Regions from separate parts of the Homo sapiens genome. Here region 2 is linked to region 1. Evidence: fine-mapped expression QTL. A gene starts in region 1. The other region holds a variant in brackets. All regions are shown on one strand. Distances are between the middles of the regions. Region 1 holds the start of SEMA3C (semaphorin 3C). Region 2 has its middle 26 kb from the start of SEMA3C.

Region 1 (16,171 bases):
AAAGAAAAAACTTGAGCTGGAAACTTACAGAATAGATGAAAATATAAAAATACAATTAGGTAATTTAGGTTTTAAAGAATTATGTTTTTGTTGCCTTAAATTGAGACTTTAGTAGAAGAAATCCACAATGAAACATGAGAAAAAATAAATTTATATTGAATTTATGTACTAGAAAACTTTTTTCCTTTCTATGCCAGGAATTGCTACTAGTTTCTTTGTAATCATATTTTCTTTTTATTTTTACTGTGATACGATCTTGAGGGAATCTTATTCTAATCTGTTACCAGAAAATTAAAAACGTAATTTCTGAATCTTAATTTTTAAAACTTAAAAGAGAATTTAAGGCTGGGCACGGTGGCTGGTGCCTGTAATCTCAGAACTTTGGAAGGCATAGGCAAGAGGATCACTTGAGCCCAGCAGGAGTTGGACACCAGCCTGAGCAACATGAGGAGACACTGTCTCACAAAAAATACCTGGGCATGGTGGTGCATGCCTGTAGTCTTAGCTACTCAGGAGGCTAAGGTGGGAGAATTGCTTGAGCCCTAGAGGTTGAGGCTGCACTTAAGTTAGCTATGATCACACCAGTGTCCTCCAGCCTAGGCAAGACCCTGTCTCAAAAAAAAAAAAAAAAAAGAATTAATCCAAACCACCTGTTCCTGTAGCAGCTGATTATCAAGAATCAAACCAGTTCAAATGTTCCCAAAGTTTTTACAGACTCAAAATAAAATTTAAATGTGGTCTAAAGGGGATAATACAAACATAATTACCTTTGGAGTAAAATTATGAACCTTGGAAAGTGATTACTTAAGAATCCTATAAGAAATCACATGTGTTGAAATGCCACAGTCTCAGTGACGATAAGATATTTGGATCTTCAAGGTCCTCAAATCATCATTAAAAGAAAAGATCAGTTTAATTAATTGATCAACCATTTATTCAGCTGTCACCATGTGGCAAGACTTGGCTTTAGCTGGCTACAATGTCTAAGATTCCTATGTCCTACTCTGGAGCTGTTGGGAGTCAATGGAGAAAATTTTCACATAATTGTAACATGAAATGATATACCTGAAAAACTTAAGACAATACAAAAGTGAGAGAGGTGTTCACACACATTGTAGTATTTAACTAACACATTATAGTTTTTAACCAATAAACCTAAAGGTAGTTGCTTTAATTCTCATTTTACAAATAACAACACTAGAAGTGGAAATCAAACAATACCCAACATATATAGTTAGTAGGTTAGGAATTGGTGATTTACATGTAAATTTATTTGACATCAAAATTGATATAGTTACAACTCTATATATGACATCTAGGACTTGATTAATTTTGCTTAGGATTAAAAAAAAGGATTATACTATAGAGAGGATGTATTAAAGATAGAGGAGCATTTGCAAAGCCACGGAAGTGTGAGGAGGAATAGTGTAGTCAAACAACGGTCAGGTAGGACATCAGATACACACAGAATTTAAGGTGCCAGGGGAAGGAATGAGCGAGAAGGAGTGAAGAATTAACCTTGACCCAAGCAGTGGAAAGAGACTGTATGAGCCATGGAAATAAGCTGCAACTTTATCCTTCAGTACATGAACAAAAGACTTCAGTAACCCTGGTGACAATTTGCAAACAGGTTACCTGCGACTTTTAATTTTAAAATTACACTTGATATTGATGAACTTCCTGTTACTTAGTCTTGAATCCACTGTGCAAATTTGTTTCTGGGTTTTCATTTACTGTATTTACATGAGTAACAAACTAGATATTTAAAGAGAATAGATTTAATTTATATAACTATAAATGTACTTGGATGGGTAATAAAATAACTTGTATGATTTTCTGTTTTATAATGTGTAATCATTTACGTGGTCAATTTGCTGTTGATTCTCTCTTTGCTTCTACCCATATTCCTTGAACCCCTTCTCCATTTATCTGCCAAAGCTGTTCATTAATCATCTTGGTTCTTCGTATTCTAAAGGATACTAAGGAGAATTAGACACTGTTTCTGCTCTCGAGCTGTCTATAATTTGAGTGAAGATACAATGTCTGTATTTATCATTCAAATCTGAAATGTAATGTGATAAACATCCAAGTAAAACAGAAAACCTTCTTCAGGACCTAAAGAGCCTAGGAGGAAAGTAAAAGTCTCCACTCCCGTTTCTTATTTACTGAGCTTTTGATTAGATGTGTTTGCCAAGAGGTGGTAGAAAGCAGGAAACACATGGACTGTGGGACAGGCAGACCTGAATTTATTGCCTAGGGACCAAAGTAGGGGAAAGCACCTCAAATTTCTGACTGGCTTCCTTGTTTGCATGATGGAGGTACTTATATCTTCTTTTTCAGGGCTGTTAGGGAGATGAAAGAAATACACTTCCTCAAATGTCTATTAATAATGCATGCCCTTTAAATCATGTTGCTCCTTCTAGTACATCTCTGGTCTAAAGTTCAACGAGTCCATTGCAGTGAAGAAAATTGATCAAGGAAAACTATTTAATTGAAATATATTCCAAGAGCTTTATATCTTAAATTATGTCATATTTGTTGAATAATGAAAATTCTATATCCTTCTTTAAAGTTATTAAATGCCACAAATAATGAGAACACATGGACACATAGAGGGGAACAACACACACTGGGGCCTATCAGAGAGGGGAGGACGTGGGGAGGGAGAGGATCAGGAAAAACAACTAATGGATACTAAGCTTAGTACTTGGGTGATGAAATAACCTGTACAACAAACACCTCTAACATTAATTTACCTATATAACAAACCTGCACATGTACCCCTGAACTTAAAAGTGAAAAAAATTTCAAAGCCTCATGACTAAAAATAAATCAAATAAACTGAATAAGTGGTTGATTCTTTGCAAATTTCCTACACAGCCCCCTCTACCTCCTGGAAATCACTGTTAGAGAAGACAGCAGGATTTCTCATGTGACTTTCATTATGAGAATGCATCTGCTAGGATGTGAAAGTTCTTTGCACAATTTAATACTCCACTTTCTAGTCAACCATTTAAAGTCCAAGAAGAGGATAACAATAGTAAAATCTGAAGATTACATGGAAAGGCCCTTGCCCATTTCGAAGGGCTGTAGATGGGAGTCAATTAGCCGTAACTAACAGTCCTGCATTCATTGCTCCAGCTGGTTATTATTTTTGAGCCTCATTACATGCGTCTGACAATCAGAGGCACTTATGCAGGCCTCTTATGGCTCTCCTGTGAGAACAGATATGGGAAGTGGTTTTGGTCTTCCAGGTGTAGAGACAGAGAGCTTCAGATCCAATATGATTCATAAAAGCTGCTGGCTTTCCTCAAGACGTGACTGTGGATGGGTGTGCATATACTCCACTAGCAAACATTAACTGTGGGATTCTCTGCAACTGCAGTTGTATATAATCTCAAATACATATACTCTGTCCTCACTGAGGCTTCACATGAAATATTCCAAGAAGGCAAAACAAATAGAAAGTTTACATTTTGTCCTTGTGATGAAAATGTGAATGATCATAATAACTCTATTACAACCTTTGTCATGCACACATGACATTTTTGTACTAAGGAAGTAAATTCACTAAGGGATTCTTACTACTGAAATTCTTTACTATTCTACTTTTACATGAAATATTGTAATATATAAACATTAGAGGCAATATGCTTTTATTTTGGTTGAGTTGCGAAATATTGCGCTTAACATACTTGATATGTTTAAAGGTGTTTAAGGAAATACTGAGGACTTAAACTTTGAACTTTGTAATAGCTTATACACTCACCTCGTTTAAAATTATAAATGTAAAACAGAGTGAACCATGAAACCTTTCTAGCCAATTTTCCTCTCCAGAGCAAACCACTGTTGCCAGTTTATTTTGTTTAATGTCAAGAACCCTACAATTTGAGAAGCATAGAGTGGTACATATCAACAGAGAAAAAACAGTCAGCAATACAGATTAGCAATAGATTAAGAATGAAAATAGAGATACACTCATCTTATTGAAAAATTAGAAATGATTTGATAGAGGAAATATTAAAGCCTATTTGCTGTGCAGGTAGCAGTTTCACACACAGATTTCTAGACCAGACCTGTTTGACCGGCTTGGTCTCAGAGCTGCTAATGTAACCCAAGGAGACGTAAGGCTGATGTAAATAAAGTAAGTAACCATTGGAAGTTGAGACTTTCCAAAGATACAGTTCAGGAAACTTAAAAGGATGGCATATGGAAGTTGAGTGAAGGAGAAAGAGAGGGAAGTAGAAAAGAGGAGAAAAATGTTAAGCAAAAAAGGTAAGAGGAAGTATTGAAACTTATTGAAAAACCTGAGACATTACGGCAATCACGCTTGAGTTTCTCTTCCTATTCTGATATTTACTACCCATTTGACTTTGGGCAAACCTTCAACGTTCTCTCATTGAAAATTGTAACTTCATTAAAGAATGCTATGCAGATAATAAGCAAAGTACCTCGCAAATACACAATCTATTTTCTATTACAAATATCAGTTTTTATGACTAAATAATAAGACAATTTTTAACCTCTGAATGATTAATATTCTCTGGTTAGGGTAAAGTTTATTTACATGACTCATCTGTATAATAGGGAAAAATCTGTTTTCTTTAAATTTGAAATAAGATAATGTATAGCTGCAGAAACTCCTGGAGAAAAGTATGTAACTCAACATCGGTGCTAGAGTTTTAAGTTAAATAGCATTCCTCAGGACCATCAAAAACATAAAATATTAAAAATATGCCCACTACACCTTGGCAGGCAGAGACACTTCAGTGTGTAAGATACTGCACCATTTCTAAAACGTCTTAATAAAAGTTATCCTAAGTATTTTAGTTTGGCCGCTCGTCTGAAACGTTTTGCTGGGTGCAAACATTGTAATTAGTGCTCTCTAAATTTAGTTGTGCCACTACTCCTGTAGATCCATTTAGTGTCCCCCTTACCGAAAACAGCGTTCTCAATTAGCTGTTGTTTTCCACTTGTAAGGACAGTCAAAGCTGAAGTCTTAAAAAAGTGGTAGTGCCCAGAAATGTTTCTTAGGCAAGTCTTGTTTTGTCAAGGTGTTTTAAGCAGTGTGGGGAAATGTGGGCAGAGATTAATCTTAGGGGCTTCTAGTGCCACTGTTAAAATTCCACTCTGTGGCCTAAGTCTCTGGCAAGCATGAGCACTGTGTCCTTGCGCTTGAATCTATCTTGGCTAAAGCCTATCAGTATTTTTATGATTCATTTTGAGGTGTGGCCAACTGTAAACGTCTCAGAGCTAAGCAAATACCATTAAATCCCAGGAGCACATTGAAAAGAGGTTTATTTGAGCAATATTGAGGGAATTTCGGCACAAATTTCATGGGCTGTGATTAAATCTAAGCTATTTGTCAAGGCCTCCAAACCCCTGAATGTGTAACAGATTGAGCTAATTCATTGGTGTTTGTAAATTGAGTTTGGAATTAAGCTCCTTTGTAAATACACCGTTTGAGATGCATTTCATCTTGCAACTCTTTATCGTGGTTTTCTCAAACTTAAAATGTATAAACGAATTCCATCTTACGTGAATTTGCTGATCAATTTCTAACAGCTCCACATTTCTAAATTAATTTAATCCACACACTCATCTTTCTAATGATTTATTCTTCTCCCTGCTTAATATATAAATGCCGAATGAGATATCAGAAGGAGGATAATAGTGGAGAGTATATAACCTGGATCTTACTCAGTTTCAGAAGTATTTCAGAGAAGCACGCACAGTGCTTATTCACATTGACATCTGGATTTTAATATTGTCAGTTTTTGGGGGGTTAAATTCCTTATTACAAATTTATGTCAAGGATCTTCTCACGCATCATCACAAAAAATAATTTTAACTGTTGTTACTATATTAATTTTTTGACGTTTGGAGATAATATTAGCCCTGGAATAGTATTTTTGAACTCATAAATTTGCATTATTTGACTTGATCCTTCGTTCCTTGACTATGCAGCGTGAGTCTGAGACACGTGTATGTTTACTGAACACAAGAGGTGGGCCCCAGACACATGAAAGATGTGTCTCACTCACCTCTTCCTCCTACCTGAGATTTCATTCAACTTTCCCACTGAACAATGATTTTGCACCCCCAGAGGGGTTTTCTATGATACAGTTTATAAGAATTTAATGATTGTTTCATTATGTGAATTGTCAGGTATAAGGTGGAGATATTACACTCCACGTTCCTTCTGTAGAGTGACATCTGCTGGGCTGTGCCCCACAGTGATTTTAAGCAAGTGCCTGCTTGTTTTATGGGGATCAAAGCTCATTTCTCCCGATGTTTAAACATCTAGTTTATTGTGGTCCGGAGAAGTAATTTTCACTTAAACATCAAAGTCAGTTCCAGAGTTTAACGAGTGTACCTGAAAGTAATGCTGGAAAAATACCTCTGATGTATTTCTGTAGATGTGTGGTTATGGCAATCTGTTGGCATAACTCAGAACAGCCTCTCCACATAGAATTGTCAAATAATTTCTTCGTGTAATTATGTTTGGGAGTATGGTTGGGGACAACGTACTGGATATGAGTCAACGTGGAGGGGTCAACAGAATTACTGCTTTCAGGGCATTAAGGAAACTCAATAGGAAACAATACCCATTAAAAGGATACACTTGTGCAACAAGATTGTCGTTTATCTTGACCTGTTTTAGAAAACACGCAACAGAGGCCCGGCGCGGTGGCTCTCGGCACTTTGGGCGGCTGAGGCGGGCGGACCATTAGGTCAAGAGATCCAGACCATCCTGGCCCTGTCTCTACTAAAAATACAAAAATTAGCTGGGCGTGGTGGTGGGAGCCTGTAGTCCCAGCTATTCAGGAGGCTGAGGCAGGAGAATCGCTTGAACCCGGGAGGCGGAGGTTGCAGTGAGCCATGATCACACCACTGCACTGCACTCCAGCCTGGCGACAGAGTGAGATTCCCTCTCCAAAAACAAAACAAAAAACAAAAAACAAAAAACAAAAAAAAAACGCAGCAGAATAAGGACAAAACTCACGTCCTTTTAAAAACGCATCTCTTTGCCTTAAAAGGCTGCAGTGATCCTTCCCTGGCAAAAATAAAAAACCACAACTGCTTTGCACTTTGATATTTACGGCCAGGCAAAGCCTGTGTAAGTCTTCGAGAGCCGCCGGCAACAAAAACCGTGGAGCGCACCCAGCAAGTTGCTCACTCCGCCGCGGACTGCGAAAGGAGCAGGGTTGCGGAGCTAGGGCTCCAGCCTGCGGCCGCGCATTCTTGCGTCTGGCCAGCCGCGAGCTCTAAGGGTCGGCCCCGCCCGGTCCGCCCCCGCGGCTCCCTGCCAGGCTCTCGCGGGCGCGCTCGGGGTGGGGCCTCGCGGCTGGCGGAGATGCGGCCGGGGCTGCGCGGTGGTGATGCGAGCCTGCAGGGCGGCGCGCCGGGGCAGCCGGAGCCGCGCGCCGCGGCGCTGTAATCGGACACCAAGAGCGCTCGCCCCCGGCCTCCGGCCACTTTCCATTCACTCCGAGGTGCTTGATTGAGCGACGCGGAGAAGAGCTCCGGGTGCCGCGGCACTGCAGCGCTGAGATTCCTTTACAAAGAAACTCAGAGGACCGGGAAGAAAGAATTTCACCTTTGCGACGTGCTAGAAAATAAGGTCGTCTGGGAAAAGGACTGGAGACACAAGCGCATCCAACCCCGGTAGCAAACTGATGACTTTTCCGTGCTGATTTCTTTCAACCTCGGTAAGCTAAATTGGTCATTTTCCGCATTACAGATTTAGCAAAGTATAACTTTTTTGGCCTGTATATTGATTTTTCATACATTGGTATGCTCAAGCCTGGACATTTTCTTAAGAACACACGCGGTTTGTCAGGGAAGCTTTCCCCTTGCTGAGAGCCCTGCTCGAGTTGTTTCTTTAGGCGGTGACACCTGCGGAGAGTTTCAAGTTGAGTATTACAGTGCCTTCAAAGGCAAAATTGCTCCAGAGGAGATAAGAGAATTCTTTTCTTAATGTGTTGTTAGTTTGCGATCAGCAGAAGTGAAAACACCAAGAGGAACGTCTGTGTCTGAGTTAAAGGGAAGAAGTTGTAAGATACTGTTGGGGAGGCGGGGGTGTATTTAAGACACTTGGCTTTCAGTCTTTCACTCCTCATCACTAGGTGGGATGTAAATCAAATTGCCCTGTAGACTATCTTCGTTTCACCTGCCATTGTATCACCAGTATTCTTTGCAATTGGTTGTATATGTACTTTTGGGAGAAACATATAAGGTAAGATACCAATATGTAAAAAAAATGTGTAAATAATATCAACTTGCTCAGTAAACATAACAAAGGTTAGGCATATTAATAGTTTTTTTCTTTTGGCTTTAACTATGAAGTCAACAGAACCAAGGGGTAAATTACTGAGGGAAAGTCACCCATAAAATCAGTTTCTTTCTAAGTTAATTTAGGGATGACAGGGTGAAGAGGTTGTGGAAGCAGGAAGAAACTGTTTCTTTTGAAAATTACCAACACAAACATCTCTAGAGTTTCCTCCATCTGTGTGGTAAAAGAAGCGTACAATTTCATTTCTAACTCTCATAACATATGCACCACCTAGGAAATCTACTTACAATTTTTGTTTAAAATTGCATATTCCATTTAATTCTTTTTATTCTGTATTAATGAAGCTGTCTTTTTCAGTTGTTAGTGGTTCTTACAAAGAATTTAATAATTTTGACTATGAAATTTTAATTTGAAAAGCCAAATAATGAAGATCAGCATTGTTGTAACCTGTAAAAATAAATTTCTTTACTGGACTCTTGGGTCACTTTATTGTGTAATTATGGTAGAAGCAAAATGATTGTGTTTCTTTAATGGTCCTGAGTTTATTTTACATGATGTAGCCACTAGAGCTCCTGTAGGTTTATGGTAACACATTATCTGGTCTTCCTTGGGATTCAGATATTAGTTAATAGCATGTACCAATTTTATATCTATAGTTTGAAGCAGTGACACCTGTCTCTTTGATTTATCTTTGGGAATTTTGACAGCCCACATTCTGGTTGATTTATTTAAAATATGCATTGGTGGATACATGGCTCACTGGATTGCTCACCACTAGGTCATTGGTTTGAATTTGGCACTAGTCCATGGTTACTTCAACTGCATCATTTAACAACTGCCTGTTGGTCATCTGGATAAAATGGCAGATAACTGATTCCAGTGACTTCAGTGATCCAGGATTGAGCACACATAGATTTATGTAAGGAAACACCACTTCCAGAGACAATTACTCCAAAAGAGCTAATGACTATTGAAGTGAGTAGGTACACATGAATGCTCATGTGAGATTTTGCTGCTGCTGTTACGTTAGTGGGGGGAAAGAGTTCTCATCCAGTAATATTCTTTTAGCTCAATTCTATTCAAGTCTTTTTAATGTAATGGATTTCTAGAGAGAAGATCCGTTAAAATATTGGGCTTTCCTTTGGGTATCAGTGTTTTTCTTCACTGCTTTGTTCTGTTTTGATGGTAGCATCAATTTGCTGGAAGATGAAAGTTTCTCTTGTTGCAAAGACTTCCAGACACAAATGAATCAAATCCACATTTTCACATCTGAGAAGCAAAGACACAGCACCTCCTACTGTTTGCATTACTGTAAAAGTTCAGATGGTTCTTTTGTGAATAGGGTGTTTTGTCTAGATTGCTGTTTTTTCCTACTCCTAAAATGTGAAATGAGATATAACAAACATGTTGTCTCTCTCTTAAAGGTATTTTCCCTTGGATATTAACTTGCATATCTGAAGAAATGGCATTCCGGACAATTTGCGTGTTGGTTGGAGTATTTATTTGTTCTATCTGTGTGAAAGGATCTTCCCAGCCCCAAGCAAGAGTTTATTTAACATTTGATGGTAAGAGAGTTGATAAACACTCTGGGAAAAATGTTATTTTAAGTTTTGTTATCTTCCTTATCCAGATTCAGAAATTAAGAGTATAAATATTACTGGATATTAATTTTAAAAATATTTACTGGGCTGCGTTTTGGAGGACAATAGCTATTTTAAATGATTGGTTAATAGACAAAGATCCTCTGTTGGATTTGAGGTATTTATGAAAATGCTTATAATATATGCTGCTTTTTGTAAAATAATTCTTCTGTGCTTGCCTGTGTACTCACAGAGGAGATGGGCACGAGCTCAAAGCCTAGCATCTTTGATCTTACTGTTCACCTGGTAATGTTAAGAAATTGCCCCTTTGTGCTAATCCTCAGCAGCAGAGAGAGCTATGCAGGTTCAATTACTAAAAAATTCTCCCAATTAATTTTTTGGGCATTAGTCTCAAAACTGGTTACTCCGTGTGTTGTTCTAATGGTGTTTCTTCTTTTTCCACAAGGATTTCCTGAGATTGGCATAGTCCCCTAATTAATTGAAAAGGACCTAAAAGAATAATTGGAAATATGCTTTTGATGGTTGTTGTATACAAATGTTCTCAGAAGCTTAGGGAAATGGGTGTGATTTCAGATTTTCACATACATAAAAGGTGCAAGGTCTTCTGAGGGAATGGTTTGCATGAGCTTTAATGTATATAGTTCAAAGGACTTACAGATGAATGAATTTGGTTAGTCAAGTAACCCATACTAATTGGACAGATGGAGCAAGACATGGATGAGGAACACCATCCTGCCAATCAAGGTCATTTATAATTTTATTACTTCTTTCAACTCTGCATAAACTTTAGTGTCATTGCAAGTACTTTTTCTTTCATTTGATAAACAATATATTCTCAGACCTTTCTATAGCAGAGTGTCTCTGAAACTTTGTCTCAAATTCCTTTTTTTTTTTTTTTTTTTGAGACAGTGTCTCACGCTGTCACCAGGTTGGAGTGCAGTGACACGATCTCGGCTCACTGCAGTCTCCACCTCCCAGGTTCAAGCCATTCTCCTTCCTCAGCCTACCCAGTAGCTGGGATTACAGGTGCGTGCCACCACACCGAGCTAATTTTTGTATTTTTAGTAGAGACGGAGTTTCACCATGTTGGCCAGGATGGTCTCGATCTCCTGACCTTGTGATCTGCCCGCCTCCGCCTCCCGAGGTGAGCCACCACGCCTGGCCTCAAATTTCAAATAGCAGAATGACTGACACTTGCCAGTCAAATGGCTGTCCTTTTTTTCTTTTTAAGTCACCAGTGCTTTCCCCAAGGTTGTCATAAGCACCGAAGGAGCCATATTTGGAACTTAGAATGTGTGAGCTTCTAATTGCTTCCTTAGCCTCCATGCAAGGCATTTCCCCTTAAAACCCATAGCTATGCAGTTAAGTTGTGAAGAATGGAAAAACAGACCCTTTGAGGTATCCTTTTTAGCCCCTTAATTACTAAAGCATCTTACAGACTACCCACACTTTTCCTCCCAAGTTAGAACTATGAAATACGTTTTCAAATAAAAGAGAAAGGGCATTAAGAAGTAGTGCAATTTCCCCTCTATTTTCTATATTTCTCCTAGTATATATAGAGATGGAGTGACCTAATAGATTAGATGTCTCTACCTGCTTTCTTTTCCATTACATGAAAATTAATCCAAACTAATGTAAATATCAACAAAAAGTGTGTTACTAGAGATAATGAACCAATTCTGTATTTGAAAAAGCAATTGCAATTCATATTTTACAGAAGGAAATTACATAGTATAATCTTTTAGAACCAGACTTCAGAACTGTGTAAGACAGTGACAGCTATGCTATACAGTGACTAGAAGTAATGATGGGATTTAAAATAATATATGCCTAATATTTTAAATGCACTCAAACTTAAAACAGATTCTTGCAGAATAAGACTTGCCTTGATTTGTAACTTATGTAGAATATGACATGAGTTGTTGATCTCAAAGTTCTATAATTCCTGATATTTTGTTCTTCTCAGGTGTATTACTGGTACTCTTAGGAAGTGAGAGAAAAACAGAGCAAATAATCAGAGAGATAGAAAATCACTTGTTTTGAATACTGTTTAAAAGAGATGTATCAACAGTGAGAATACATCTAATAAAATTGCACGATTGGTAACTCAATAATTTTAAACATTCCTACAATGAACTACATAGACAAGTTATAGGGAAAGTATCAGGCGAAAACAGTTGTCAAAATGTACAAATTTTAAACCTTGGTTCAATACAGTTTTCTTAGGAGATTTCACAGTGTACCTGCTTGAAATGCCTGTTCAAATTTATTATTATTTAAAGTTTCTCATTAGTCAAATGATGACTCATTGACTATTGTACCAAGTAGGTTTTTAAGTTTCCTCCAAAGTAGTTTATTCTCAACATCAAAATATAGAGCTTTGTATGGGGTTAATGTATTTAAGAGTATATATTTAAATACATGTGGCATATACTTCTAGTTCGTATTTCTAAAGTTCTATTACTGTTTTCCAATAAAAAATCAGCAACTGAAAGGTGTTTTGCAGAAATTCAGATAGTTTCAAGTTGTATTAGACAGAGGTCATTTGCATTACTTGTTTTATATCTCTAAGTACCTTTAGATTCTCTCGTAATTACTTTACCTACTGGCTCTTTTGTCTTGAATTCTTCTCCATCACTGTAACTTGGTCCTCTGCCTGTCTCTCTCTGGGTGGAACTTGAGAAGAAACCACTCAGTCTTGTGTTACTTCCGGTGCAATAAGCATCATAGGCAATTTCAAGGTGTGTAGAGCAATGAGTCTCTTCTCCCATTCATGTTCCATCCCTTTTTCTTGTGGTGAAATAATGGAGTAATAACATTTGTAAAACAGTGATTTACAGGTTTGCCTTCCCTGTTGATCTAGGGCAAGGTCAACCAGATGGTCATCAGTCCTGTGGGAGAATGTACTTCAGATGTTATTAATTAGTTACATTTGTGCTACTTAAATCTTCTATGTTGAGACCTGTGACTTCTAATATTTTCTTTTGTAATTGGTCTAACTCTTATTTTATGCCAAATAGCTTTGCAAGTGAATATAAGGTTCACACAAATGCTTTTAGTATAAGTTTTTCCTTAGTTAATATTGGCCAATCTTGCAGCCCATGGCTGAATTTACATTTGCATATGCATGACAGTGGTTTAAAAACAGAAAACTGAGTGTGAGTTTTGAATTGGAAATAGGTATTTTATGACTAAGCACTAGACTTGCATAGGATTACCTGTTTTTTCTTTTCCTTTTTTTTGAGACAGAGTCTCGCTCTGCCTCCCAGGCTGGAGTGCAATGGTGAGATCTTGGCTCACTGCAACCTCCACCTCCTGGGTTCAAGCAATTGTCCTGCCTCAGCCTCCCGAGTAGCTGGGATTACAGGTGTGCGACACCATGCCCAGCTAATTTTTGTACTTTTAGTAGAGACAGGGTTTCACCACGTTGGCCCGGCTGGTCTCGAACTCCTGACTTCAGGTGATCCGCCTGTCTCAGCCTCCCAAATTGTTGACATTACAGGCGTGAGCCACTGCGCCTGGCCCTGTTTTATTTATTTACTTTGTGATTCATTTTCCCTTTTGTGTGTGCTGAATTTTTAGTAATAAAGCTGCCAAAGTCTCCAGGTCTTTGATAGTATGTAAATGAAAGACTATGGAATTTTATAAAACATCTTTTAAAATCACCCTCAACAAATAAAAGAATCCCTGTGAACTAATGAACTAAGCCCCAAAGCTGATGAATTGTTATTGGACAATAAACTGAAAATAATAAATTGCCTCTTTATGAGCTCTGGTAGCATTAGCATTACAAGGCACGTTTGTTGAAATAGTTTTTGTTGTGGTTGCCCAAGAAATGAAAATAAAAGCAGTTGTTCTTGATTTCTCCGTTAATCTTGGAAGATGCTTACTCTGGGTGTATTGAATCTTCTCAGGTTTGTGTTACTGAGAAGTATTTAGTTCTCAGGTGTGTGTTATGGCATTTTCTTTTAAGTCTCCTTATGATGGTTTCAATTAAATGTCACTGAAATATCTTGAAGCACACATGAGTGTTTTAGTAAACCCAAACTCAAGGGGTGCTCTGTGAATAAAAAGTTCCTTCTACTCTCCCCCTTGTGAGAGTTTAATTGAACTCAGCAAAGGATTGATGAATTCACTTGTGAGTTGGACATTACCTGAAACATGAGTCTAGAATAGAGTAACACTAAATTTGTAAAGCAGCAAGGTAAAAACTGTTATAAAATACAATTGCAATGGAAGATGAGAAGAATTGCTAAGAAATGTAGCCTCGTATGTCTATTTTCCCCTGTAATATGTATTGATATAGGGCTCTGGTAATCAAAATAAAATAATATTTCTAGTAGACTTGAATTGGAGGGAGGAAATTTTATTTCAGGTATTGCAAAGAACATCTCTTGAAAATTTTAGGATAAAAGGTGTTACATTGATATGCTGTGGATTTCTCCTAGAGAAAAAATTTTAGAAAAATGTGTAAGCCTATATTTTCCTGTTTAAAAAAGTAATTACTGTTCCAGGTGAGTTTCATCAGATTATAATAAGCTTGATTCTGTTGCCAATAAATGATATTCTGTGTTAAGCCATTCAGAGTTACAAGGTTCCTACAATTGGGAGCAAAGAAGGAATGCTTTAGTGTTCTGAAGTTAGAAGAGTGAGCTTGAGTGTTTTGTTAATCGGTCATACGAACACAGCGGTTCCATTAAAAAAAAATGTGGTCGAGCACGGGGGCTCACGCCTGTAATCCTAGCACTTTGGGAGGCCAAGGCGGGTGGATCACGAGGTCAGGAGATCAAGATCATGCTGGCTATCGTGGTGATACCCCGTCTCTACTAAAAATACAAAAAATTAGCCAGGCATGGTGGTGGCCACCTGTAGTCCTAGCTACTCGGGAGGCTGAGGCAGGAGAATGGCATAAACTCGGGAGGCAGAGCTTGCAGTGAGTCGAGGTCGTGCCATTGTACTCCAGCCTGAGCCATTGTACTCCAGCCTGAGCAAGAGAGTGAGACTCTCTTTCAAAAAAAAAAAAAAAGGTCCTATTCTATGAATTAATAGACATGCCTAAACATGTTTACTAAATTGAACTCTTTATCAAATGAAGATGGTGCAAGTGATCCTAGATAGCTTATTTTAAATTTGTTCACATGTTGATCATATATGTTGATATGTTGTTCACATATATTGATAAAACGATGTTACTTAGCCTTTATTTGCAATTTTGATTCAGAAGATATATCTAGAACCAAAGTTATACATTTTCGCATTCTTCCTAGGTGTATACTACTTTTTGTCTTCTTTGTTTCTAAAATAGTTTTGGCAATTAAACACTAACATTAATACTGACTTTGTGGCAGCCATTTCTGTAGCTGCCATGAGAATTAGTTTTAAGATCCACAAAGATCACAATGAAAGGAAAAAGGAAAAGAATTTTTCTCAGTAAGATATTCTGTAAACATATCATGTTAACTATGTCATGCTAGAATTTTACATTGCTCTTAGAACATCAAACCTGCCTGAAAATGAAATAAAATTCATTCCCTATATCATCCCAAATTCCCCCTTTAATTTATGATTCATCAAGGTGAAGATGAGGGGAATTACCTCTCTGGAACATGTTTATTTTGTTGCTGTAACTGAGATCTCCCTTTGTGCCTATGCGAGCAAGTCAGTGCTTAGATGGATAACAGTAGAAAAAAATTATTATACACTCTCCTCATTTCATTATGCAAATTTATCAGGATGTATCTCCATAAATTCACTATACCTTGCACTGTCTTTTAAAACAAAAGATTCAGATGTTCTTTTTCATGGATATCATTCATTGCATTAAAAAAATGGCACCGAGACACACTCAATTTTTTCTTTCATAAACATCTTTTATATAAGGAGGTTGTAAAAAATAACTTATTTTAAATAAAAAAACTATCACTTTGCTATAATAAAGAACTATCACTTTGGTTTTAGTTCCATTACTGTTAAAAAAAAAAAAAAAAAGAACGAGCATTGGGAAATAGAGCTGTGAGCTTTGGGCAGATTCCAGCACTTTTTTGCCTTCTGCATTTTCATTTATATATTACTGAAGACCTCTGTTGTTAAGGAAAACACATTTAAAGGCAAGGAACAGAAAGGTAAGATGTTCTGTAGCTCAGAGTATGAGTTAGCAAGAAGGGCACATGGAAGGTAGAACTAAGTGCTGAGCCATGTGCTATTTTAGGGTAGCACTAGCCATGAAACAATTTGCTGAGCTGTAAAAGATGGCAAGTATGTTCCACGTTTTAAA
Region 2 (16,171 bases), 27 kb before region 1:
TTTTATTGCATTTTCTGAAAGTTTAGCAGAAAGTATACCCCTGTATCACTCAGAATGAGACTAAATATTATATGAGTTGAATAAGTCTTTAATACATCTTGAATTAATTTTTGTATAAGGTGTAAGGAAGGAATCCAGTTTCAGCTTTCTACATATGGCTAGCCAGTTTTCCCAGCACAATTTATTAAATAGGGAATCCTTTCCCCATTTCTTGTTTTTGTCAGGTTTGTCAAAGATCGGATGGTTGTAGATGTGTGGTGTTATTTCTGAGGCCTCTGTTCTGTTCCATTGGTCTATAAAACCATAAAAACCCTAGAAGAAAACCTAGGCAATACCATTCAGGACACAGGCATGGACAAGGACTTCATGACTAAAACAACAAAAGCAATGACAACAAAAGCCAAAATAGACAAATGGGATCTAATTAAACTAAAGAGCTTCTGCACAGCAAAAGAAACTACCATCAAAATGAATAGGCAACCTACAGAATGGGAGAAAATTTTTGCAATTTACCCATCTGACAAAGGGCTAATATGCAGAATCTACAAAGAACTTAAACAAATTTACAAGAAAATAATCAAACAACCCCATCAAAAAGTGGGCAAAGGATATGAACAGACACTTCTCAAAAGAAGTCATTTATGCAGCCAACAGACACATGAAAAAATGCTCATCATCACTGGTCATCAGAGAAATGCAAATCAAAACCACAATGAGATACCATCTCATGCCAGTTAGAATGGCGTTCATTAAAAAGTCAGGAAACAACAGGTGCTGGAGAGGATGTGGAGAAATAGGAACACTTTTACACTGTTGGTGGGACTGTAAACTAGTTCAACTATTGTGGAAGACAGTGTGGTGATTCCTCAAGGGTCTAGAACTAGAAATACCATTTGACCCAGCCATCCCATTACTGGTATATACCCAAAGGATTATAAATCCTGTTACTATAAATACACACCCACACGTATGTTAATTGTGGCACTATTCACAATAGCAAAGACTTGGAACCAACCCAAATGTCCATCAATGATAGACTGGATTAAGAAAATGTGGCACATATACACCATGGAATACTATGCATCCACAAAAAAGGATGAGTTCATGTCCTTTGTAGTGACATGGATGAAGCTGGAAACCATCATTCTGAGTAAACTATCACAAGGACAGAAAACCAAATATCACATGTTCTCACTCACATGTGGGACTTGAAGAATGAGAACACTTGGACACAAGGTGGGAAACATCACACACTGGGACCTGTCTTGGGGAGGGATAGCATTAGGAGAGATACCTAATGTAAATGACAAGTTAATGGGTGCAGCAAACCAACGTGGCTCATGTATACATATGTAACAAACCTGCACGTTGTGCACATGTACCCTAGAACTTAAAGTATAATTTAAAAAAAAAGAGTTGAATAAGAACAACCCCAAAATTACTAAATACAATGATAAATCAGGTAATATTTTGTTGGAGCTTTGGGCAAAGATAAGGATTTTAGGCAGAGTATTGATAAACCAATTCTTAAGAAACAAAATTCACTTTAAATTGTAGTACAAATATTCTCACATCATAGACAATTTCAACTGTTGGCATGCCAATAGTTTACTAACTGTTTAGTAACATTTAGTAAATGGCTATCAAAATACTGAATAGTTGAGAATCATGTCCTACTGAACATGACCTGTCCTCACCCTAAACTCAGTAGTTTGTCTTGTAAAAACAGAAAGACATACTCACATACATATACTCACAAACACACAGTTTTAAACCTGTCACTACTTTGACATCAAATGCATTCAGGGAAATCTAGTAAATAACTGCTTAAAAACCATTTCCACTATAGTCCAATGTACCCAACTCTATTCTAATTCAAGTGGTTTACTGGTACATGTTTAAGAACCAGCTCAGGGAGATAGATTTCTATTTTGTAGTATATACTCCCACCATTGCTGATTTAAAGCTATGGACATGCTATCAATGAACAGAGTTGAAAAGCTACACTCAGTAGCACACCATTGGAGGGCATTTTCACTATATGGAGACAATAGATTTAAATAGTCACAAAAGCATAGGCTATAGTAATACATAGTAGAATAATTAGGAAGTGAGGAGTTTGGGATTTACATTACCTTTGCTTTTAATATAATTAATTGTAAATTTATATAATTTAATTTTAATAATGATTGTATTTAATAACTGGCTTGCAAAACTCCTGAAAATTTAACAATCATTTCTACAAGGCCAGTACAAGTCTGCTCTGTATGCTAGTAACTTCCCCCACAATTTCCCCTACACCACCTGCCAATTATGTGACAGTAATAGAAACACTTGGAATCACACACCAAACTGAGACCTCTACACAGAGGGACACCAAAGGGTCACTGCATGACTCTGCTAAAACTCGTGCCCAAGGTCACCATCAGGATGTCCTATCATGGTTTTTATCCCTTTCTCTAAACCACAGCAGCAACAAAGTTGTGATCATCTATCATTTTAGGCCCAGAGATGTCATCAAGTTTAAAACCACAAGTAGTGATACTGGATTTAAGAAAAGGGCTGCAAGCCAGGACCAGACACATCCAGATACATTCAGCTCGTTCTTGTTTCTTCATTCCTGAAAATACCTAGTGGCAAAAGCCAGTCCTGTGAGCATAGCCTAGGATTCAGAGAGATAAATGCTCTAATAATTGGCTACAGCTAATTGGAAGCAATCGATAGTTCCTCAACTAAGATTTTGCTCTGATCCAAGTACTACGCTAAGCTTGTAAAAACTGCTGTTCTCATTCAGTCTCACTACTTTTTCAAATGTCAGTCTTCATTTTTAATAAGAGAAAACCAAGGTTTAGAGAATTCATATAATATGCCAGGACCCCCAAGGTAATAAATAGCAGAGTGAAATTTGAACTCAGGTCTGTCTAGCTTCAGAAACTATGCTCCTGACAAATGTACTATTCTGCCTAAGGTAATAATGATGATGTTTATGATAATAATGCCTGAGATTACTTGAGTGACTCTTATCTGCTAAGTATTATTCTAAGTTCTTTACATAGACTAACTTATTTAATCCTTATAACAGCTAGACATTAATTAGCACGTTTCCTCAATTCTAAGATATTCTCCATTGTAGAGACACCCTTGACTTGAGAACAGTATTCAAGGAAAAATATGTACTATGTAAATGTCATATTGATTATACTATGCATCCCAAATTAATAAATATTTAAAAATATAAAGCTTATGTCTCAGGACTAAGAAAACATGGTATATTGATGCCTGTATTAACAAGAAGACCAAAGGAAGAAAATCTGAGCAAGGAAGTACAAGATGCGAAGGAGAATGGGAAACTAAAATTCTAAATTACTGGAAGACCATATAGTTTCTCAAGGTTCCTGAGTTCAATGGTCTAATGTTTTGACACTGCCATTACATGAGCTTTATGCATGGTTTGGGTAGAAGAATGTTTTTAGAAAGTAGAGATACAGGGAAACTGAACCATTTATTATTAGAGGAGAAGGCTAAATTATAGGTTATTCTTGAGGAACCTTGCCTATACAGATCTGACAGCCTACTGCCAATCAAAAAATGAGTAGCACTCATTGAGTTACTCCTTCGTTGTGTTGCTTAAATGATGTCTTTCAGATTGAGAGGCAATTTCTCTTCTTAAGTAATGTATTCTCTAAATTACCATTTGCTGTGCCTATTGTACATAAAGGGAGGGGGTGCTAGAACCATGTAGGTGAGGACATTCCCAGAAATCACTGTGGAAGTCATTAGATTGCTTCAGATTCTGCAGGTACGTATGCAGGTTTGAGGTTCCTACCCAAGTGGATAATGTAAGCATCGGCCATGTTGCTCTAAAATTAAGAATATGAAACAACTGCTTTAGTATGAAAGAAAGGATATTCTCCATTTAATCTCTCTCTGTCCTTCTCTGCCTCTGTCTTTGTGTCTCTTAACACACACACACACACACACACACACATATACACACGGCTGTGAGTGAAAAGTCACCCAAAATACAGGAAAAGATATTATAGTAATACCAAGTCCACCCATAAAGCAGAGGAGCTCTAATAAATCCTCCTAATTTCTCAAATATGTAAGGCCCTAGAAGCTGGATGGGTTGAAAGCAATTTTCTCAAGGATCATAATTTGAATACATTTTATGATTGGATTAATTTATCTACAAAAGAAAGTCAGATAATAGCACCGTTAGTAGAAGCTTGAAAAGCAAAGAGAGCAGCAGGAAAGTAGTAGTACAAGATCAAATTCATGCCTTTTTAAAAAAATAAGAAATCAACTTACAGAATACTATATATATTTTATTAGACTTCTGCAGACATGTAAAAGTTAAGAGAGTGAATTAATCTATTTGGAAAATGTTTGCAGTTAGATTGGTAGATTAAAACAATTAAAACAGCCTGAATATAGCCAACTTTATAACAGTAGTAGAGAGTAACAGAATAATCATCATTGTTGAATGTTAATGCAGAATTAATAATTTAAAAAACAAACTTAATTGTAAAATTGGATTGTATTGGAAAGAATAATCAAAGTGACTGTCTTTGGTCCTAAGTAGGAATCTACCACAGAAACTTTCTTCTCTCCTCCCTCCCTCTCTTCCTTTCTTCCTCCCTTCTTCCATTCTTCTCTTTCTTCCATTCTTTCTGCCTTCTTCTCTCTCTCCATGCATGTGTGTGTCTGTGTGTGTGTGTGCTTGTGTGTCTTTCTTTTTGATGGAATTAATTTATATGTGTAATTGTGCACAAGTGTCTGTTAGGCCCTTTGTGTTGGGTCTTAAAGCTGATGCTTCTCTAGAAAAATGGCACAACCTCTAGAGTACAAATAGTCATTTGATAATATGGGAATAAGGTAACACTTTTCTTTTTACTTTGTTTTTTTTCTTTTCTTTTCTTTTTTTTAAATCCAGGATAATCTCCCTGTTTTAAAGTGAGCAGAATAGCAAACTTAATCACATCTACTACCTTATTTTTCCCTTGCCATGTAACCTAACAAATTCACAGACTTCATGGATTAAGATATGGATGTGTTTGTGTTGCAGGGAAGAGGAGACTATTCTATTCCAATGAGCAAACTGCAGAAAAGACAAGTGGCTGCCCTTTGTTTCAATTTAAAAACAAAAGTCCTAGAGAAGAATTCCTATTAGCCGAGCAAGGGCCACCTGCCCATTCTCATGGTAAGGACGGATGGGATTGAGAGTTAGGTGACATATCATATTTGGCAGCCCCAAATAAAACCATGTATTTGGAGTGAAATGGGAAGCAGTCCATTGAAAGAAGCAATGGCTTTTCTCAGAAGGAGGGGAAATGTTAGACACTGTCAATGTTAGACAAGCCAAACAACAGATGTCTCCTGTGCTGCTATTTCACCCTACCTACTTGATACTTCCTTTTAGGTACCCAATGCTCTAGGCAGACCGTAATACTAACTGCTTCCTCCAATCCACATTCATTTTTATATGATCCTTTATGTCTTTTATCAGACAGTACAGCCTTACTGTCATTCTCTGGCTATAGAAATCCCCATTCTTCTAAGTATACATCACGTGCTAATTCTTCTAGAAGAGAAGTCAATTTCTGGAACACCCTGGCTCTCCAGTATTTAAACCATGTACTATAATATGAAAGGTTTGTTTGTTTTTTGTTTGTTTGTTTTGCTTTGTTTTTTGAGACGGAGTCTCACTCTGTCACCAGGCTGGAGTGCAATGGTATGATCTCCGCTCACCGCAACCTCCACCTCCAGGGTTCAAGCAATTCTCCTGCCTCAGCCTTCCAAGTAGCTGGGATTACAGGAGTGTGCCACTATGTTCGGCTCATTCTTTGTATTTTTAGTGGAGACAGGGTTTCACCGTGTTGGCCAGGCTGGTCTCGAACTTCTGACCTCGTGAGCTGCCCACCTCGGCCTCCCAAAGTGCTGGGATTACAGGTGTGAGCCACTGTGCCCGGCCGAAAGGTTTAACAATAATATAATCATGATTCTGAGAGCAAATGTTGTCTTTTCCCATTGCTTGAATATTTCAGAAGCCCTCTTAACTGTTGACTTGGGGAAAATTCATTTGTCCTGTCTGCCCTGATCTTGTATTGTGCTCTGTTTCAAGAATTACTGCAAATGCTTTCCAGAAGTCCAAGATATTTGATTTTGCTGTAGAGTGATTTATGAATGCCAAGTTTACTTTCCAGTCTAAATCTCTTTTCCTATGGTACTAATAGACAGTAATGACAATGCCACACCTTCAGGCCATTTGACTTGTTTCCACAAAGGAAAATTTAATTCTCAAAGAGTATTTTTTTTATTGTAAAGTAATTCACTGGGTTGAAAATTGGATTTTAGTAAGCTACTTTCTAAAATACATAATTAAATTCTGATATAAAAATATTTTTTAAAATTCTGGCCTGTGCTTCGTCACATGTTAATTTTGTATAAAATAAAATTTGCTTTACACATGCTTACCAACATCAGCTCACTGCTCTTGCAGGGAGTTCCAAGACCACACATCACGATGCTCTCAGAAGAAGATTATAGGAAGGCAAATTTAAATGCCAACTCATTTTTAGGTAAATGAGATGATTTTAGATATTTGCTACAACAAAATTAAAGACAATGGAGAGTGTCAAAATGTTGATGTTTCGCATAGATATTTGATTTTTAGCTGAGAGATTTTATCCTGGGGATAAATTGCTTTTTTTATTCCAAGGCTCACTTTCTAACTTTTTAAATTTATCAGATGATCTTAGGCACTTATTTTTACATTACTTTTCCAATAATACAATATTATTCATATGAACAATTCACTAGGCAAATGTTTTTGCTTCTAGTCAGAAAAAAAAAAATCATACAATATCCATCCATATTAGATTTTGTTGCATTTGAACCAATCTCAATTTTACAACTATTAGATATCTACTAATAATTTTTTCTAAACTTTACTTACATTACTTGAATGTGAAAAAAAGACTTGTTGGACCTTCGAAAACTTTTATTGCCAAGAAATTATCCAATCCTTTTGCTTGGATAATTTTCTCTTTGCAAAAGTACTTTGTCTTTTAAAATCTCTAGCTTGCTAACTGTTCCAGCTGGCAAATGACTTCACACTCACTTTCAGTCTGACTAGCTGACACTTCTGCTTTATTAAACTTTTAAATGTCGGAATTCCTCAGGGCTCTCTCCTAGGCCTTCTTCCCTTACCACTCCACATATTTTACCTGGGCTTTATTGTCTTCTCCAATGATTTCATTTACCCTATATATATGGAAGACTCTAAAATAGAAGCCTCAGTACTATAACTGTCATCTGAGCTCCACACTGATAACCACCTGCCCATTTGACAGCTCTACCCAGACATCCCATAGCTACATCACATTTAGTGTCTCTAGAACTGAAAGTATGATATTCTCACGGCCCTCTCCTGTGTTCCATTGGCAGAGA[G/C]GGGCTTCAACATCTCCCTAGTTCTCATTTAAATTTGATATCCAATCTAGCATCAAGTCCTGTTAATTTTATGCCAATGTATTTCAAATATTTTCACTTCTCACATGCTAACCGGACTCCTCACATCAGCATTATTCATATCCAAGCTATAATTCTGTAGCCAGAAAATCTAATGAATTCAACGTTTTCAAAATTCTTCCTTGAATGTATTCTACACCATGCAACCATGGGGCATTTGCACAGGTTATACCCTAAACCCCGGGAATTCTCTACCATCCCCTCTTCACCTTAGTAACACCTTCCATCCTCATATCATAAATATCATTTCCCCATAGGAATTTGCCTGACCCCAAAGTTTAGATTATATTTCTCCATTCTATGCTTTTTTCACCCCAAGTCTCAGATTATAATTAAATAATCAACCTATTATTTGTAATTTATGTTATTACATGTTTGTTATTTATTGTTTTTCTTTGTCTTCAGAATGTAAGCTCCATAAAAGATTATATCAATCTGTTGTCACCTCTACCTACTACAATATTTTACACAGAGAACGTCATAAATAAACATTTGTTAAAGAAATAATAAATAGGCCGGGCGCAGTGGCTCATGCCTGTAATCCCAGCACTTTAGGAGGCCAAGGTGGGAGGATCATGAGGTCAGGAGATGGAGACCATCCTGGCTAACACGGTGAAACCCCGTCTCTACTAAAAATACAAAAAATTAGCCGGGCGTGGTGGCGGGCGCCTGTAGTCCCAGCTGCTCGTGAGGCTGAGGCAGGAGAATGGCATGAACCCGGGAGGCGGAGCTTGCAGTGAGCCGAGATTGCGCCACTGCACTCCAGCCTGGGTGACAGAGCGAGACTCCATCTCAAATAAATACATACATACATACATACATACGTACATAAGTACATACCAACATGCTGCTTAATGTGTTACCCCTTCTAACAGAATTTGCTTTATTAGGAGAATGACTCAAGTGGCTTTGTTTTCTTCTAAAATTATATCCATAATCTACATCCTTTAATCGCCTGATGGTTCTGAGTCCTTTTTGAACTCTGCACTAAGTATAATTAATAGCCAGGATATCCCCAGGTGGGTCTGCGACTGTCATCGCATCTCAGCAGACTGAAAAAGTGATGCCCATTTGGTAAGCTGGGGTAGCAGGACATGTTTCTCTTTAATACTCTAGCCAATACTTAACTAGCAGTTGTAAGGTCCTGTAATGCTCTTTCTTAAGTGTCCATTCTGTTTCCTCCTTGATGCCAATTTGCTTAGGGTCCTCAATGACTTTTGCTTACACTTTACATTCAATGTTAACAAAATAAATAAATTATGATTTTTGTCTTCAAAGAGCTCAGAGTTCAGTGGACTATACAAAACAAGTAAAATAAAAATATCTTCATAGTCCCCATTCAGACAAATCCTGCAACTGAGAAAAAGTGGCAGTGCGTGAGAGAAAGTTATACTAGGTAAAGGGAAGAGCAAATGCAAAGACATAGATGCTTGAGAGGGAGCCACGTGTTGAGAACAATGAGTGATTTAGAGCCCATCGAGACTGGATCCCATAATGAGACAGGCAGAGGAAGGGACTGGTTAAGGTCCCATTGGAAAGCCATTTTACCATGGTAAGTTTACCTTTTATCCTCTGTAAAATAGGGAACTGTGCAAGATTTAAATAGGGAAGTGGAATACTCAGATTGTTCAGATTGGTTTTTTTTTTTTGAAAAGAAACATTGTCGGTATTTTGAAGCATGAACTAAATTAAGGATTAAGGATTAATTAACTTTTCTTGAATCTGCAAGCAAATTTGTCCATTACTGTTCTTTTGTTTTGGTCCAGAAGGGACTATTAATAAAATACGGACTAAAAGGAGAGTTGCTTCTGCATTCTCTACATTGACTGCCTCTACCATCTCTTTATTATATTTATTAACTTGTTATTTTTCTAAGATGCCTGTTATTTCAAATTGCCAGCAGCAATTTTCTTTTGGAGGCTATCCTGGGACTAAAAAAGAATATTCGTTCAAAGGATATGATACAGTATTGTAGAACCTAATTAACACATTTCATATATGAATCATTATGTTATTTATTACATCAGCAATTGACCACAGTTAGTAGAGCAAATAGATTTTAACTTTTTCACCAATTTTTGCAACCCATGGCCACCTAGATACATGTCTCAAAAGGAAATCTCTGCAGAAAGTGTTTATCCAACAGCGATGTTTGCCATATGTGAAGATAAGATCTGGTCATGAGTCCAGGAGCATCAACCCAGTGGGTAGCAGGTAAAAGGTTGGAAGGAAGCAGATTCTGTAGCATTGGGACATTGACAGTGGGGAGCACATGGAGTGCTTGGATCAAAGAGACATTTTAGAACAGTAGTGTGGCAACTTGATGAAGATAATTAGATAATAGTGATATGAAGCAGTTTTCTTGAATCTGCAAGAAAATTTGTCCATTACTGTTCTTTTGTTTTGGTCCAGAAAGGGTTATTAATAAATAGGGACTAAAAGAAGAGTTGCTTCTGCGTTCTCTACATTTGACTGCCTCTACCGTCTGTTACTTTTTTTTTTTTTTGAGACAGAGTCTCGCTCTGGCTAATTTTTTATATTTTTTTAGTAGAGACAGGGTTTCACAGCGTTAGCCAGGATGGTCTCGATCTCCTGACCTCGTGATCTGCCCGCCTCGGCCTCTCAAAGTGCTGGGATTACAGGCGTGAGCCACGGCGCCCGGTCAACTTGTTACTTTTTTTTAGATGGTTGTCTTTTTAAATTGCCAGCAGCAATTTTCTTTTGGAGGCTATTCTGGGACAAATAGAAAATACTGGTTGAAAGGAAATGATACAGTATATGTAGAACCTAACTAACGCATTTCATATATGAATCATTATGTTATTTAATCAGCAAATGTTTGCTCAGTAACTATTTGAATCATTTTGTTTAACTATTAGCATCAGCAAAGATTTGTTCACTGACTCTCTATTACCTAGGATATACCCAGTATTCCAAAAGGGAAAAAAGTAGCATAGCCTCTCCTCTTGAAAACTGTATTTTCCATAATTTATTCAAGCAAAATTGACTACTTAGACACTATCCCTTTGAAGTAGCCCTCCCCAAGCTAACCTATGAACCACTATTTGCTCATAGGAAGGAAGTGGTTCTATCTAAGGCTAAGAGCCAAGAATTTTGCATTCCATTCCATTCATTGCTTCTGTTACTGATTTATTAAGTAATATTAAGTAGCAATTCTGCAGACTTTTCTCTTTGGCCTACTGAGCATGGCAATGCACTGGAAATTCCACTAATGTGGGCACAGCTTGGGGCACGACAAAGAAATAGGTGGAGACTAGAAACACATCTCTGACATGTCTTAGGAATGTCCCTAGGGATATTTCATTACTGAGTAGCTGAGCAGAGACATGACTCAGCCAGAGTTCCTGCAACTGGCTGTCTGGGGCAGCTATGAGAATGCTGGCAGGAGTTGCTGACTAGCCAGTGTTTGGTGAAGATGAAAAACAGCCTTTTAGTTAGAACTGAAACTTCTAAATAGCAATCTGATTGTACAAACTGACTTGAGTTGTTTGTTAGTACTAACATATTAAGAGGGGAATAAATTTGCTATCTGTCTGCAATAGCTTTCTCAAATATGTCAATGCATTTGAAGCACCTTGCGAAGAATTATTATTTAATCAGTGGACATTAGAACTCCTATTTTGATGGATTCTTTAGAAAAATACCTTGATTTTTGCAGTTGAAAAGTGAGAAAGGTTCTGTTGACAGAGAACTAAGAAATATGTAAACTTGTTTCTTAAGAAACAAACACTAAATTGAAGATGGAAAAAAGGGGAAAGAAAAGAGATGGAAGGAAGGTGACCAAGGAATAGAGCAGAAGAATGAAAGAGTGGATGAAAATCTATAGAAAAGCAATGCCTAATAAATAGCATTTATATTAGTGGTGCAAATTTTCCCTCCATGTGATAATATATACAGATAGATATATATTTTACATTGGGATTTTGATTATTTAATATTTATTTTTAGATTGTGTTCACTATCTGTGATATAAAGAAATTCAAAAACTTCTTTCCTGGTTATGAAACATTGTGTTACTCATTGCCTTTTTTTCAAAAACAGAAACTGGACAATTAAGGCTAAGTGCAATCACTCTGTTTAAATTTATTGGGCAATAGTTGCATGATCTTCAGTTGTGGAATTTGTGTGTCAAGGCTCATATGACAATTCCTTTATGGCACTGAAATAAGACTGTACTTGTCTTTGCTTTGTCCTTTCGGCCTGCCCTTGGTGAACTCCTTATTGCAATGAATTCGTATTTCTGAATCTAAAGATGACTAGCTTCTAGCTGCTAAGTTAAATTTAAACCTCCGTGAGGACACCAGCTGTCCCTAAGTGAGATAATTTGCTATTTTCCTCGGGCCAAAAATTCCAGTTTGGGGTAAGACAGGGCCTTGAAATGCACATTCCCTAAGAGGTTACTTTTGATCCAGAGATCTCTTAAAGTGTTAATGAATTTCCACACACATGAGCACCCTGCATTTTTTTCCTTTTGGGTTAAAAACCGAAGAGGTCTATAAGGAGACTGTCTCAGAACTTTGGTTCCCAGAACCATTATTTATATTCAGCTTCAGTGTTCCTTATTTATTAGCTGGGACCTAGCAGAGCAGTTACAGCAACAGAAAACAGCAGATGGCAAATTTCATGGTGGCGATAACACAATAACTGAGAAGTATGTGGTGAGCAATATGGGAGCTCTTCACAAATCCCTTATTATCCTTTTTTGTTATTTCTGTGTGTGGAGGGAGGGATGTTAAATGTTTCGTGTATATTCTCTCTCCTATCCTATAACAATGACACAAGAGTGTATGATGCTATGAAAACAGCTCTCTTGCCTCTAGTTGGGGCAACTCTAAGGTGTGACACACACTCCAGAGCTCCCTGAAAAGTCAGGCTAAAGTTCTTCTCTACAGGATGCATGCCTCTGCACCTGCACTATTGCTTGGCTTACTTCCCTTCTTTCTTCTGCTTTTTCCAACTCCCTAACCTGCATGCCCTAGAGGAATTTCCTTAATAAATTGGTTACACATACATCCTTGGCTCAGGGTCAGCTTGTACTAAACCTACAACAAAGGGAGGGGTGAGTAAAATGAGGAGACAGGGAAAAGATGAATCTCCAAGAGAGATAAAAATGAAAGGTTACTGGAAGGCAGGATGGAGCAAAGAAATCCTTAAAGAAAGGAGGGGAAATAGGGTAAAGGGGGAATCAAGAATTGAGATACTATTGTCTGGCACCATAGTATATGGGACCTTTATTTAGGGGTCCTGAAACATAGTGCTGAAACACAAGGCCCTGACTTCATACTGACTGAGGATAAAATTCCAACTTTTCTACCTCACAAGTGTATAGCCTTAGGCAAAGTAATTTACTCTTTAAGCCTCTGATTTTCCATCTATAAAATGAGTCTGAGATTTTAACCCTTAGAAATACCTTTAAATATGGAAAGAACCTTACACCTAAAGGTATTTATTGCAGCATAATTTAGAGATGTGGTCCCCAACTGGGGGTGATTTTGTTCCCTAATGGACATTTGGCCATATCTAGAGACATTTTTTGTTTTCACAGCTCAGGGATGGGAAGTTACTAGCAGCTAGTGCATAAAGACTAGAAATGTTGGCCGGGCGCGGCGGCTCACGCCTGTAATCCCAGCACTTTGGGAGGCCGAGGTGGGCGGATCACGAGGTCAGGAGATTGGGACCATCCTGGCTAACACGGTGAAACCCCGTCTCTACTAAAAATACAAAAAAAAAAAAATTAGCCTGGCGTGGTGGCGGGTGCCTGTAGTCCCAGCTACTCGGGAGGCTGAGGCAGGAGAATGGCGTGAACCCGGGAGGCGGAGCTTGCAGTGAGCCGAGATCGGCCCACTGCACTCGAGCCTGGGCGACAGTGCGAGACTCTGTCTCGAAAAAAAAAAAAAAAGACTAGAAATGTTGCTATACAACCCACAGTGCACAGAATAGTCTCACACCCCCCTTCAACAACAAAAACGTTTTGGACCAACATGTCAGTAGTGCACAGTTGAGAAACTTTAACGTAGAGTAACAAAAAGTTGAAAGCAAATATTTTAAAAATTTAGAAATAGAGCAAGATTAAATAAATTATAATGCATCCCCTGAACTAAATAATATGCTATAACTGAAAAAATTATTTTTTTTTAAATTGTTGACACCTATGATAAGATGATAACAAAGTAGAAAATGCTGGACAGTCTGTATGTAAATTGTGTAAATCAATTAATTAATTCAAGTCATACTTTTCAAGAGCTAATCCATGCCAGGTATTGGACTAATGGATATTATAGTGGTAAAGGAAACACATTTATGAAATTTGCATTCTAGTAGAGAGAAAGGACAGTAGAAGATAGATAGATAGATAGATAGATAGATAGATAGATAATAGGTAATATAGATAGATGATGAATAAAAAAATGAACAAGAAACAACTCTCTGAAGAACTGATATGTCAGCTGCGATCTCAATTTGTAGAAGGTGTGAATCATGGCAGGATGGAAGGCAGAGCATTCCTAGATAGACTCGTTAGGTTGAAGACTCTAAAGTGAGAACAAGCATGGCAGTTTTGAAGAACAGTAGTGTGAAAAGCCAGAGAAAATTATGGTTAACAATACAAGCTATTGTGGAGAAAGACAGACTTGAATTTGAATCCTCGCTCTGTGGGATATGAAGTGAAATGTTCACTCTTTCAGAAACTTTTTCTTAACATTGTTTCACGGTGTATAATTGGGCATAAGAAAACTTCTCAGGATTATTGTGAAAATGAAATTAGGTAATATATGTAAAGTGCCAAGCATCTTTTACATGATAAGCACTCTATAGTTTGAATTTAATGAAAAAGTCAAGATTAAAAAATATATATGGTATACAAACGGGAATAAAAAAGTCATACAGAGATATATATATGTGTAATATATGTATATTACATAGGTACACACATATACATATGTAATATACATAACATATGTAATATACATAATGTAATTATGTATGTAATTACATATACATAACATATGTAATTTATATGTAATATACATATGCCTATGTAATATACATAACATACACAGTATTAGGGTACAGATGCATTAGATTAGCTAATCATATACATATGCCTATGTAATATACATTACATACACAGTATTAGGGTACAGATGCATTAGATTAGCTAGCCTCCTAGATGCTTCTCATTCTATAATGCCAGGACTTCACAAATTCCTGTACAATGATAAATGACAATAGCTTTTGCTACATGTACTCATTCATATCAGTTCTCTGAACCAATGAAGAATGGCAATCTGATTCTCTAAGGTATAGAAGTGTGGTGGACATAAAGTAACAACTGAAAGAGCCCTGGTCTGGTGACCAACAGGTACCGGTTCTCTTTGAGATTCTGCTGCCTATTAATTTTGATTCCCTAACAATCACCAACTATTCTGAGCCTCAGTTTCTATAGGTATAATGAATAAATTAGACAAAATCATCTTAAAGATCCTTTCTAATTCTAGAATTCTAAATATTGCAGATTATTTAGAGATAAAAGGTGGTTTTACCAGATTTTAGTTTAATCAAGTAGAAAACTGTTTTAGAGAAGATAATACTGGTTCCTCTGAGAAGAAAAATTAAAGAAATCTTTTGGTTTAAGGAAAGTATCTATTTATAATTTGTATAAAATTACATTAATTATAACCAAAATACATGATTATAAATTATCTTCTTTAATGTATTTGCTTTTAATTTTTTATGTTACATGCAGAAATAAAGATGGCTAGGTTTTTACAATAAGTAGTTCCAACAGACCAGTTAGTCGTATAAGGAAATTCTATAAATACCTTCAGTGGAGAAAGACAAGGTGTCCTAGACATCACTGAAATGACCATACATTAGACAGAGGCCATTCCTGACATTGGAAATGGCATCATTTTGAGTGTTAAGCTCAAAAGCACTGATCCAAACTTGGCTTACCCAATTTTTTAGTCTATAATTAAAAATAACTACCTAATCATGTTATTAATACATGAGTTAGAGCGATTTACAAATATTGTTTTATCACATAACAAAAGGAATAAAAGGCAAGTGAGTAATGTACCAGGTTTGTTTCACACAACTTAAGTGAATAAAGAACATACGCCTAATGGTTTATGGAAAGTCACACACAAATAAGATAAGGTCAGGGTCAGGATCCACTTAAGATCCATTAAAATGTCATTGAAGTCAACGATCCACTCCATATGAAAAGGTAATTATACTGTCTGTTGATAAAAACAATCCTTACAAGAAGATGTAGTGACTTACAAGAGGATGAAGACTCATAGTGTTCAAGACTCCTGAATGCATAAAAATTTATAAGAAAATGTTTAATATGTATATTATTTATTATATATTATTAAGTAAAAACATATAATATATAATAAAGCTCATAAGTGGCATTAAATGGGAAAAATCATGAGGGCAAATTCCAAAATATTCTTTTTCATCCCTAGACCAAAACAATTTCTGCAAATATTTTATAGAATGCCTTGAAAATGCCCTCTATAAAATATCTAAAAATATAAAATACGTAATATTGTTATCTGATTATACTAATGAGAGGTTATTTAAAATTTTGAAAGACAATGGCTGGATGCGGTGG

What was found. PIP is the estimated chance that this variant, and not a neighbour inherited with it, causes the effect.
Region 2: its variant is fine-mapped to the expression of SEMA3C in whole blood (TOPMed, PIP 0.98).

The regions. Positions count from the first base shown.
Region 1 is chr7:80,910,369-80,926,539 of GRCh38, reverse strand. It overlaps SEMA3C (semaphorin 3C), which reads left to right and starts at 7,489. Exons shown (of 18, transcript NM_006379.5): 1 at 7,489-7,712; 2 at 9,721-9,861. The coding sequence starts at 9,759. RefSeq lists a silencer at 7,223-7,352 and an enhancer at 7,900-7,969.
Region 2 is chr7:80,937,070-80,953,240 of GRCh38, reverse strand. No RefSeq gene overlaps it. Among named protein-coding and RNA genes, the nearest start is that of SEMA3C, 26 kb to the right of the region's middle. The variant G/C (reference allele first, on the strand shown) is at 7,453.